2 linked regions of the Homo sapiens genome follow. The protein of the gene in region 1 purifies or fractionates together with the protein of each later gene. This does not show direct contact. Each region holds a gene or a part of one and is shown on either strand. Other genes may lie near its edges.

What was found.
Region 2: the proteins of MMAB (region 1) and ZDHHC5 purify together in Homo sapiens (co-immunoprecipitation; 2 studies listed by BioGRID and IntAct, with this or other methods). This does not show direct contact.

Annotation. Positions count from the first base shown.
Region 1 is NC_000012.12:109,552,917-109,556,504, reverse strand, and holds the end of MMAB (corrinoid adenosyltransferase MMAB precursor), read left to right. Parts: 3' UTR 1-2,790; downstream 2,791-3,588. UniProt on the Homo sapiens protein: Converts cob(I)alamin to adenosylcobalamin (adenosylcob(III)alamin), a coenzyme for methylmalonyl-CoA mutase, therefore participates in the final step of the vitamin B12 conversion.
Region 2 is NC_000011.10:57,684,845-57,692,142, forward strand, and holds part of ZDHHC5 (palmitoyltransferase ZDHHC5), read left to right. Parts: intron 1-3,663; coding exon 3,664-3,821; intron 3,822-5,186; coding exon 5,187-5,359; intron 5,360-5,490; coding exon 5,491-5,593; intron 5,594-7,298. UniProt on the Homo sapiens protein: Palmitoyltransferase that catalyzes the addition of palmitate onto various protein substrates such as CTNND2, CD36, GSDMD, NLRP3, NOD1, NOD2, STAT3 and S1PR1 thus plays a role in various biological processes including cell adhesion, inflammation, fatty acid uptake, bacterial sensing or cardiac functions.

The sequences.
Region 1 (3,588 bases):
AGTTTAGTCACCTCTGAGCCACCCATCACCGCCAAAGTGTGGGGGAAGGATAGCTGCAGATTGACAGGCGAGGCTCAGAAACTCCTGGCTTAGATTGAAGTGTGTGTGATGGGGGTGCAGCTTAGAGGACCCCCTCTGAAAGGGATGGAGATGCTGATGAGAACAACACTACCACTTGAAGGTGAACATTCCCTGTCTGGTTGGACTGAGTCAAGGGTCTGCGGTGCAGCATCTTCAGCTTGAGAAAATGAGGTTGTCAGTTTCCAGCAAGGCTGACATCCACCAGACTGATTTCTCCGATGTTGCACTTGGCTGGCTTATGCCTCTGAGATCGGTGCCACGGCTGTATTTATTTCAGTTGTCACTGCTGCTCCCTCCTGCTATGAAACGACACTGCCAGTGCCAGCAGTGTCCTTGGGAAAGGCAATATTTATGAAGGGCAGAAGAGGCAGCCCCAAGAACCTAAAGACTGCAGGCTGCTAATTGCAGGAAATGACTTTGGAAGGGCAGGCTCTTGTCCAGTTTCAGGGCTGAAATGCCTGGCGAACTCCATTCAGCCATCACATATTGACTGAGTGGCTGCTTAGCATGGGCCACCGCGCTAGGCTCGGGACAGCTGGTCTTTCCGGCCATCTTTCTTGCTGGCAAGTCAGCAAACATTACCTTCTTAGTCACGTGCATATTTTTGCCTTCATTCTTACCACCTGGCCTGCAAAGTTTGCAGGAGGGCCAGGTATATTCACTTGTGTCTTCTGGGTCCTTTCATTGCTGACAGGCTGTGATGGCCCTCTTGAGCCTTGGGCAGGGTGGGTGAGGTGCAGATGACCAGGAGTGTGTGAATGCCTTCCAGGAGGTGGCTTTGTTCCGTGCCTCCCTGCCCCCATCGTCACTACCAGGTCTGGTACGGAGTCGGTGCTCAGTGTTTGCAAAACAGAGCTGAAAACGGACTTTGGGAGGCCGAGGCAGGCAGATCACCTGAGGTCAGGAGTTTGAGACCAGCCTGGTCAACATGGTAAAACCCCATTTCTGCTAAAAAAAAAAAAAAAAAAAAAAAATTAGCTGGGCATGGTGGCGGGTGCCTGTAATCCCAGCTATTCAGGAGGCTGAGGCAGGAGAATCACTTGAACCTACGAGGCAGAGGCTGCAGTGAGCCAAGATCGTGACACGACACTCCAGCCTGGCTGATAGAGTGAGACTCCGTCACAAAAAAAAAAAAAAAAAAAAAAAAACCCTGAAAACGCAATCACTAAGGCTCGGTCAGGGAGTATGTTCAAAGAGCTTGCAGCGAATCACTCAATTCTGTCTACACCTCAAAATCTCAAAATCTTCCTGGAATATATATATATATATAAAATAACACAGCAGCCCTGCATGCCTAGCCATGGGAAAGCACAGCCTCCAAAGGATAAGGAAAGCTTTTTGAGTAAATACAACATCCTAAAGTGACAATCTTTGAAACAAGGCCGTTCACCTGTTGCCAAGTCCTGTCCTTCCAGGACCGGGTGTCACAGCCTGGATGTTAACAGTCGCGTTCTCAGACCCCCGCCTCTGTATCTGTCTCCCGGTTCACCAGCAAACACTTCTCTGAGAAACCACCTGGGTGCAGGGCAGATGCCACCACTCAGCAGGTGTTTCTCTCCTGTGCTACCAACCTGGGAAAAATGGAGAAAGCTTGCTTTGGGGGCTGGAAGGATGGGGTGTTTAAAACATTTGCTCTTCTGCAGTGCCTTTCAAAAGCTCTATCAAGAGCCCGAGGCAAAAGAAAAGATGTGTACCCCTCTGTACACTGAGCAAATGTCCTCCCATATTTTGAACCAGGTGGGAAAAGTTAATGAAAGCCCTACAGTCAGGAAATGTGACTGCGAAGCCCCCGCTGCCCCAGTGTTTGCACACCACTGGCAACTCTCAGAAACAATCAGTCCCATTGCACGGGAACACGGGGTTTTGAAACAAACAGCAGCCTGTTTTTATTTAAAGTCGTGATCCCTTGCTTATCGTAGATTTTTTTCATAATTTGATTTTGGAAAATATTGCACACAAATACTACTCGATCCCTGAGTTTGTGGGCACTTCCTTACATTTTGCACCCATGAAAATGCCTCCTCCGCCTCCAGGTCAGGCTCCCTGGAATGGGGTGTTTAGTGTCATTTCCAGAGACAAGCTGGCAGTTGGCTCTTGTGTCAGAGAGAAGCCCACAGTCACAGTGACACCAGCCCGCACTGTGGAAGGGCTTGCTATGTGCAGTGCCCTGAGCCAAGTGTTCCACAGACATTATCTCATTTGAACCCCATAGCAGCCCTGGAAGGAGGCATTGGGTGGGGAACCAAGTTGTCCTGGGGAGTCAGTGCCAAGATGTGAGCCCCGGACGCGGCCTCGTCACTCACAGCCCCGTGCTCCTCAGCTCCCACCCACTGCCGCTTGACAGTCGTTTTAATCACTACCTGGGCTGTGGCGAACAATGCCAGGCTCTGATAGATCCTGCTGTCTCATTTCTCAACCTAGTTTCCCTTAACTAATATTTCATGGCTATCGTTAATGTGCGTTTTTCATCGAGTAATTTCCACAGCCCGAACTTGTAACACATCCCAATGACAAACGTCCCCAGTTCGGAAGCCCCCGTCAGTGGCAATGTCACCCTTGCTGCTGCCTCGACACCTTCCGACAGCCCATTCAGTTTTATGATCGCCCTGTCCCAGTGATCACTACTGAACCTTTAAGAATCCAGATGCATTTCAAGTTTAATTGAATAAAATTCTTTGTATAATAAATTCCGCATGAATGCTACATAAATCAGTGCCTGGAAGGATTTGTGGCTCATCCCTCCCCTCTGGCGGGGCCTGAGAATCTTCTGGCAATACTGACACAAGCTGGAATAAATGCATCTTTGCAGTCAGTCCAGCTAGAGGCAGGCGGCACAGTTTTAACTTGCCTTGGCCTATTGCTTTTCTTCTCTCAGAGTCCTCCTGGAAGATAGTGCTAAAGTCCAACAGAGGCAGGGACAGGCAGATTGCGGAGACCTAGAAACTTTGGGGACATCCCTCGTGTTCTCCCATTCCACAGAATCAGAAACTTCTCAAGCTGTGGTTTGTCACCTTTGGAATGCACACACACATATTCACAAGTTTGCATCCAGTCATAGGAAGTCCATGGAACCTCCCGGTAAGAATCCCTTTTCTAAGAGAACCCATGCGACCCTCTTCGGGAGCTAAGTCAGGATTCCCAAGGCTGCCTTCAGCAGCCTGTTTCAGGGTCAGATAGCTCCAGCCTGGAAGGGTGAGAAGATGCACTTGGGGCTGGCTGGGAGAGGCTGCTGGGTGACCTTTGATGCTTGTAGGGTTGTGGGGTGCAGGGAAGGACTGTCAAACAGCTGGCTTGGGCACTGGCCCCAGGCAGGCTCAGGTTCAAGGCCAGCTTTGTCACCTCCTGCCTTGGTGACTGGGCAAGTCATTCCATCTGTCTCGGTCTTGCTCCTCCACCTATAGAATGGGAATCATAACATCCACCCCATGGGTCACTGGGATTGTTTAATGAGGTAATACTTAAAAGAGTAATATTGCCCCCTGGCAAATATTAGCTCCTGTTATTACA
Region 2 (7,298 bases), on another chromosome or scaffold:
GTTTTTCTGAAATTCACTGTAGGCTTGGCGTGGTGGCTCACATCTTAATCCCAGCACTTTGGGAGGCCAAGGTGGGCAGATCACCTGAGGTCAGGACTTTAAGACCAGCCTGGTCAACATGGTAAAACCCTGTCTTTACTGAAAAATACAAAAATTAGCCCGACATGGTGGTGGGTGCCTGTGATCCCAGCTACTTGGGAGGCTGAGGCAGGAGAATCGCTTGAGTGGGGGAGGCAGAGTTTGCAGTGAGCCGAGATTGTGCCATTGCACTCCAGCCTGGGCAACAGCAAGACTCCGTCTCAAAAAGAAAGAAAAAAAGAACTTCATTGTGCTCCCAAAGCCTACATCATTGTGCTTTGTTTGTGACTTCCCTTCAAAGATTGGGTGAGGGAAAAGAACTTTGTGTCCCTAAAGCCAAGAAAGGCTATTTTAATGAGCCTTTAATGTTCATTCATCAAATATTTATTGATGTATTATGGAAGGCACTATGATGGTCATTTGGGGTTTTTAAGAAGGTCATTGCTGGCCGGGCGTGGTGGCTTACGCCTGTAATCCCAGCACTTTGGGAGGCCAGGGCGGATCACTTGAGGTCAGGAGTTCGAGACCAGCCTGGCCAACATGGCGAAACCCCGTCTCTACTAAAAATATAAAAATTAGCCAGGCATGGTAGTGCACGTGCCTGTAACCCCAGCTCCTTGGAAGGCTGAGACAGGAGAATTGCTTGAACCTGGGAGGTGGAGGTTGTGATGAGCCGAGATTGCCCCATTGCACTCTAGCCTGGGCGATAAGAGCAAAACTCCATCTGAAGAAAAGTAAATAAAAAATAAAAAGGTCATTCCTTTCAAATAGCTCAGACTAGAAAGGAAGATAGGAAGACACCTCTATAAACAAATACACCGTGGGCCGGGTGCCGTGACTCACGCCTGTAATCCCAACTCTTTGGGTGGCCCAGGTGAGTGGATCACCTGAGGTTGGGAGTTCGAGACAAGCCTGACCAACATGGAGAAACCCTGTCTCTACTAAAAATACAAAATTAGCCGGGCGTGGTGGCGCATGCCTGTAATCCCAGCTACTCGGGAGGCTGAGGCAGGAGAATCGCTTGAACCCGGGAGGTGGAGGTTACTGTGAGCTGAGATTGCGCCACTGCACTCCAGCGACAGTGTGAGACTACATCTCAAAACAAACAAACAAAAAACAAATACATTGTGTAAGAGTAATCAAAGAGATCACTTCTGGTAGATGATGATGTAGAAGGATCAGACATTTCAAAATAAGGAGCATTGCAACTGGGCATGCTGGTGCCCACCTGCGGTTCCAGCTACTTGGGAGGCTGAGGTTGGAGGATCAGTTGAGCCCAGGAGTTCAGGGCTGCAGTGAGCTGTGGTCGCAGCACAGCACTCCAGCCTGGGTGATAGAGCAAAACTCTCTTAAAAGAAAAATAGCATTTGAATTTTTTCCCTTTAAAAGAAAAAAATCTTTTTTTTTTTGAGACAGAGTCTCACTCTCTGTTGCCCAGGCTGGAGTGCAGTGGCTCCATCTCGGCTCACTGCAAACTCTGCCTTTCGGGTTCAAGCAATTATTCTACCTCAGCCTCCCGAGTCGCTGGAATTACAGGAGCGTGCCACCGTGCCTGGCTAATTTTTGTATTTTTAGTAGAGATGGGGTCTCACCATGTTGGCCAAGCTACTCTGGAACTCCTGACCTCAAATGATCCACCTGCCTCACCCTCCCAGAGTGCTGGGATTACAGGCATGAGCCACTGTGCCTGACCAAAAGAAAAAATCTTTTATTTAAAGATTTCAATAAGTAGTGCACATTCATTATGTACGAAGTACAAAAAAGGCAAAACATTACCTATAATTTCACAGACCAGAGCTAACTACTGTTATATTGTGGTATATATCCTTGCAATATTTTGAAGACTTAAAAAATATATGTGTATATTTATGTATACCATGTATCTGCAGTATATATTTGTGTGTGTGTGTGTTTTTTTTTTTTTTCCAGACAGTGTCTTACTCTGTCACCAAGGCTGGAGTGCAGTGGCATGATCTTGGCTTACTGCAACCTCTGCCTCCCAGATTCAAGCCATTCTCCTGCCTCAGCCTCCCAAGTAGCTGGGATTACAGGCGTGTGCCACCACCCCTGGTTAATTTTTATATTTTTTGTAGAGATGGGGTTTCGCCATTTTGGCCAGGCTGGTCTTGAACTCCTGGCCTCAAGTCATCTGCCCTCCTTGGCCTCCCAAAGTGCTGGGATTACAGGCATGAGCCACCGTACCCAGCTGTACAGTTCTTTACCTAGCATTTCTTGTGATGTAAATATGAAAAAATGCTATGTAAAGAAATCAGTAAAATTTGAAAACTTAATTTTTAATTCCACACTATCATCTATTTAATTTTTCCTTCCCACATTTTTTTTTTCTAGGTTAATAATAAAAATTGCTCTGGGTGCGGTGGCCCATGCTTGTAATCTTAATACTTTGGGAAGCTGAGGCAGGTGGATTGCCTGAGCTCAGGAGTTTGAGACCAGCCTGGGGAACACGGTAAAACCCCGTCTCTATTAAAAATACAAAAAATTAGCTGCCGAAGTGGCGTGCGCCTGTAATCCCAGCTGTTTGGGAGGCTGAGACAGAAGTATCACTTGAACCCGGCAGGTGGAGGTTGCAGTGAGCCAAGATCACGCCCTTGCACTCCAGCTTGGGTAACAGAGCAAGACTCCGTCTCAAGAAAAAAAAAATTGCTAACTGTATATGAGAAGGCAAATAATGTCTTTTAAGTTTTGAAATGGGATGGTGGGTTTCTGATAGCTGAAAATTGAGAGAAAGGGCATTTATGCTTGTGCAACAAATAATACTGAAATACGTATATGTAGAGAAAATTCATAGAGTAGGGGAAGACATTTTGGGAAAGTTTTTTTTTTTTTTTTTTTTTTTTTTAAGATGAAGATGAAGTCTTGCTGTGTTGCCCAGGCTTGAGTGCAGTGGCGTGATCTCAGCTCACTGCAACCTCCACTTCCCGGGTTCAAGCGATTCTCTTGCCTTAGCCTCCTGAGTAGCTGGGACTACAGGTGCATGCCACCACACCAGGCTAATTTTTGTGTTTTTAGTAGAGACGAGGTTTCACCATGTTGGCCGTGCTGGTTTTGAACTCCTGAGCTCAGGCAATCCGCCCTTCTCGGCCTCCCAAAGTGTTGGGATTACAGGCGTGAGCCACCATGGTTGGCTGGGCAAAGGATTCGTGCCTGGAAAAAAAGGTTGATGTTAGTTCCTCTCTTGGATTGCTATAGTTCACTCATATAAATGTAGATACTGAACTCTTATGCAAACTCATTATGTATGTGCTTTGATATGTAAACTATTTCTTTAAAATATATTCATATACTTAAACCAAATAACACCAGCAGATGCATACAAGAGCTACCTCTTGAGTCATTTTATCTCGAACCTCACTTCCCAATGCAGAATAAATTGCTCCCTCATCCATGTTCCCATAGTGTTGTATAAAGACCTGACCTCACAGTCTTATAGTTCCTAGTTCCTAGTCTCACTCATTAGACTGTGAATTCCTCAAAGGCAGAAGCTATATTTTAAACATCATTGAATCCCTAGCACTTACTACAGTTCTGGCATAGTTGTTTTTAATTGACTTTTCCTCTCTACAGCTGAGGAGGATGAGGACAAGGAAGATGATTTCCGAGCTCCCCTTTACAAAACAGTGGAGATAAAGGGCATCCAGGTGCGCATGAAATGGTGTGCCACCTGCCGCTTTTACCGTCCCCCTCGATGTTCCCACTGCAGTGTCTGTGACAACTGTGTGGAGGTAAGCACCCTGGGTGGGGTAAGACTTCATGCTTAACCTTCATTGTCTTCATCCTAACCATATAATAGATTCTTAGCTTTGGATGTGGTATAGTCCTGTCTAACTACGTTGGCCACATGGTCCAGCTCTGTCAAATGGTGTTAATAATGACATGGCATGAGAGGCAGAGCATAAATATTATTGCAGGAGGGAAGCTTTAACTCAATATGGGCATAGGCTTTCTTTTTTATTTATTTTTACTTTTTGTAGTGATGAGGTCTCACTGTGTTGCTTGGACTATCTCAAATTCCTGGCTTCAAGTGATCCTCATGCCCTGGCCTCCCAGAGTGCTGAGTGCTGGGATTACAGGCATGAGCCATTGCACTAGCAGGGTGTAGGCTTTCTTGACACCAAGATTTATAGTTCTAGCCTTCTATCTATTGGCTCAGTTTTGGTTATTTATCCTGGCTTTGCATTTTCTCTTCCAGAAAATCATGCTGTTGTGTTTCAATTTGTTGTAGTTGTTTTCCTGCCTGTCCTTCTGCATCCCTTGTCCTTTTTCCATTCCATTTTCACTTAGCTATAAGCAGTTACCTGCCAAATCTTCCTTCTAATCCTCTTTTCTTATGAATCTTGATGTTTCTGCAAAACCTCTGACATTCGTCACTTTTAGAGTTCCTTGGTCACATAGGATAAACATTGAGAGCCGGCCTTGGTCTTTTTTATATATATATATATTTATTTATTTATCGAGACGGAGTCTCGCTCTGTTGCCCAGGCTGGAGTGCAATGGCGCAATCTCGGCTCACTGCATCCTCCGCCTCCCGGGTTCAACCGATTCTCCTGCCTCAGCCTCCTGAGTAGCTGGGATTACAGGCACGCGCTACCACGCCCGGCTAATTTTTGTATTTTTAGTAGAGATGGGGTTTCACCATGTTGGTCAGGCTGGTCTTGAACTCCTGACCTCGTGATCTACCCGCCTCGGCCTCTCAAAGTGCTGGGATTACAGGCGTGAGCCACCGCGCCCGGCCAATTTTTTTTTTTTTTTTTTTTTAAGAGATGGGGTCTTGCTATGTTGCCCAGTACAGTGGCTATTCACAGGCAGTCATCATAGTTCACTACAGCCTTGAACTCCTGGGCTCAAGCCCCAGCCCCCCAAGTAGCTGGGACTACAAGTGTGCACCACTACGCCTGGTTGGCCTTGGCCTTTGACCAACCTCTGGAAGGTCTCCCTTGCAGATTTATAGAGCAAAATAAACTGGATTTAATTTTGAACTAATTGGTGACCATGATCAAAACTTAGCTGCCATTTGTTTCTCTTCTTGACAGAAGTAATTTAATGCTATGGTCCAGGGATGCCTCTCATCTGTCTCTCTTTGTCCCTAGGAATTTGATCATCACTGCCCCTGGGTGAATAACTGTATTGGTCGCCGGAACTACCGTTATTTTTTCCTTTTCCTCCTTTCCCTGACAGCCCACATTATGGGTGTGTTTGGCTTTGGCCTCCTTTATGTCCTCTACCACATAGAGGAACTCTCAGGGGTCCGCACGGCTGTCACGTATCCTTCAAGGCCTTTTAGATTGTGGGATTGGAAGGGGGAGGAATGAGGGCTAAAGGGAAAATGGCTGCAGTAGGGGCCGGGGAAAGTGAGGTCATGTTGCTCTGTTCTCCTTGATTGTTTGGCATCAGAATGGCAGTAATGTGTGTGGCTGGCTTATTCTTCATCCCTGTAGCTGGCCTCACGGGATTTCACGTGGTTCTGGTGGCCAGGGGACGCACAACCAATGAACAGGTATGGAGAAAAGTGACGAGAGACCCCTGAAGAGCAGGTCATGTCTCTTTAGCCTTCTGATTAGTGTGCAGTGTAGTGCTTCCACAAAGAGATGCTTAATGAATACTTTTCATGATTATGTAGAGATTAATGGTAGGGAGTGAGGTAGTCCTAGTTCCTCATGTAAGTGTAGAGGCCATGTAAGAATAGAGGCCATTTCTCACATATACACCATGGAATACTATGCAGCCATAAAAAAGGATGAGTTCTTGTCCTTTGTAGGGACATGGATGAATCTGGAAACCATCATTCTGCGCAAACTGTCGCAAGGACAGAAAACCAAACACCGCATGTTCTCACTCATAGGTGGGAACTGAACAATGAGAACACTTGGTCACGGGGTGGGGAACATAACACCCTGGGGCCTGTTGTGGGGCAGGGGGAGCGGGGAGGGATAGCATTAGGAGATATACCTAATGTAAGTGACGAGTTAATGGGTGCAGCACACCAACATGGCACATGTATACATATGTAACAAACCTGCATGTTGTGCATATGTACCCTAGAGCTGTAAGTATAATAATAATAAAGATACTCTCAAAGAGATACTAAGACAATAGAGATAAAGGCTGAATTTTGCCCTAAAATATCTTTTTTTATTTTTTATTTTTTTGAGACAGAGTCTTGATCTGTCGCCCAGGCTGGCATCCAGTGGCGTGATCTTGGCTCACTGCAACCTCTGCCTCCTGGGTTCAAGCGATTCTCCTGCCTCAGGCTCCCAAGTAGCTGAGATTACAGATGTGCATCACCACGCCCAACTAATTTTTGTATTTTTAGTAGAGACAGGGTTTCACCATGTTGGCCAGGCTGGTCTCGAACTCCCGACCTCAGGTGATCCACCCACCTCAGCCTCCCAAAGTGCTAAAATATCTTTTATTTATTTATTTATTTATTGTAATTTTAGTAGACACGGGGTTTCACCATGTTAGCCAGGATGGTCTCGATCTCTTGACCTCGTGATCCGCCCACCTCGGCCTCCCAAAGTGCAGGGATTACAGGCATGAGCCACTGCGCCCAGCCTAAAAATATATTTTATAACAAAATAATATCTATCTCCAAAGAAAGTCTTGGATGGTTTGGCATCATCACCTGAAATATCAATTGAGAGACCCAAACCAAACTGAAACTAGACAATATAGCATAAAGAATAAGATGATAGTTTTTTAAACAATACTCACCATAGAACTTGGTATCCAAATAATAGTATTCTTTCTTTAGTTTGTCAAAAATCATATTAATAGATTTTTAAATTTAAAGTGTAGCAAGACATATGTATATGTACATATATGTTCATATACATATAAATATTTAAGATCTTCCTAAAAAAAAAAAAGAATAGAGGCCACTTCTTAGTTAACAGACATTTACTATATGCCCACTGGATACTGGAGAATTTAGGCTCTGAGTTTATAGAAACAATGAAAGACTTAGGCTAGCCCTCAAGAAGCTTATAGTGCTGCTTACAGGAAAGCAATGATTTTTGTGCATATAATAGTAGCTAACCTTAATTGCTTTTTTTTTTTCTTTTTTGAGACAGAGTATCGCTTTGTCACCCAGGCTGGAGCCCACTGGCTGGAGCCCACTGGCTGGGGCGCAGTGGCACGATCTCGGCTCACTGCAACCTTTGCCTCCTGGCTTCAAGCAATTCTCCTGCCTCAGCTACCCA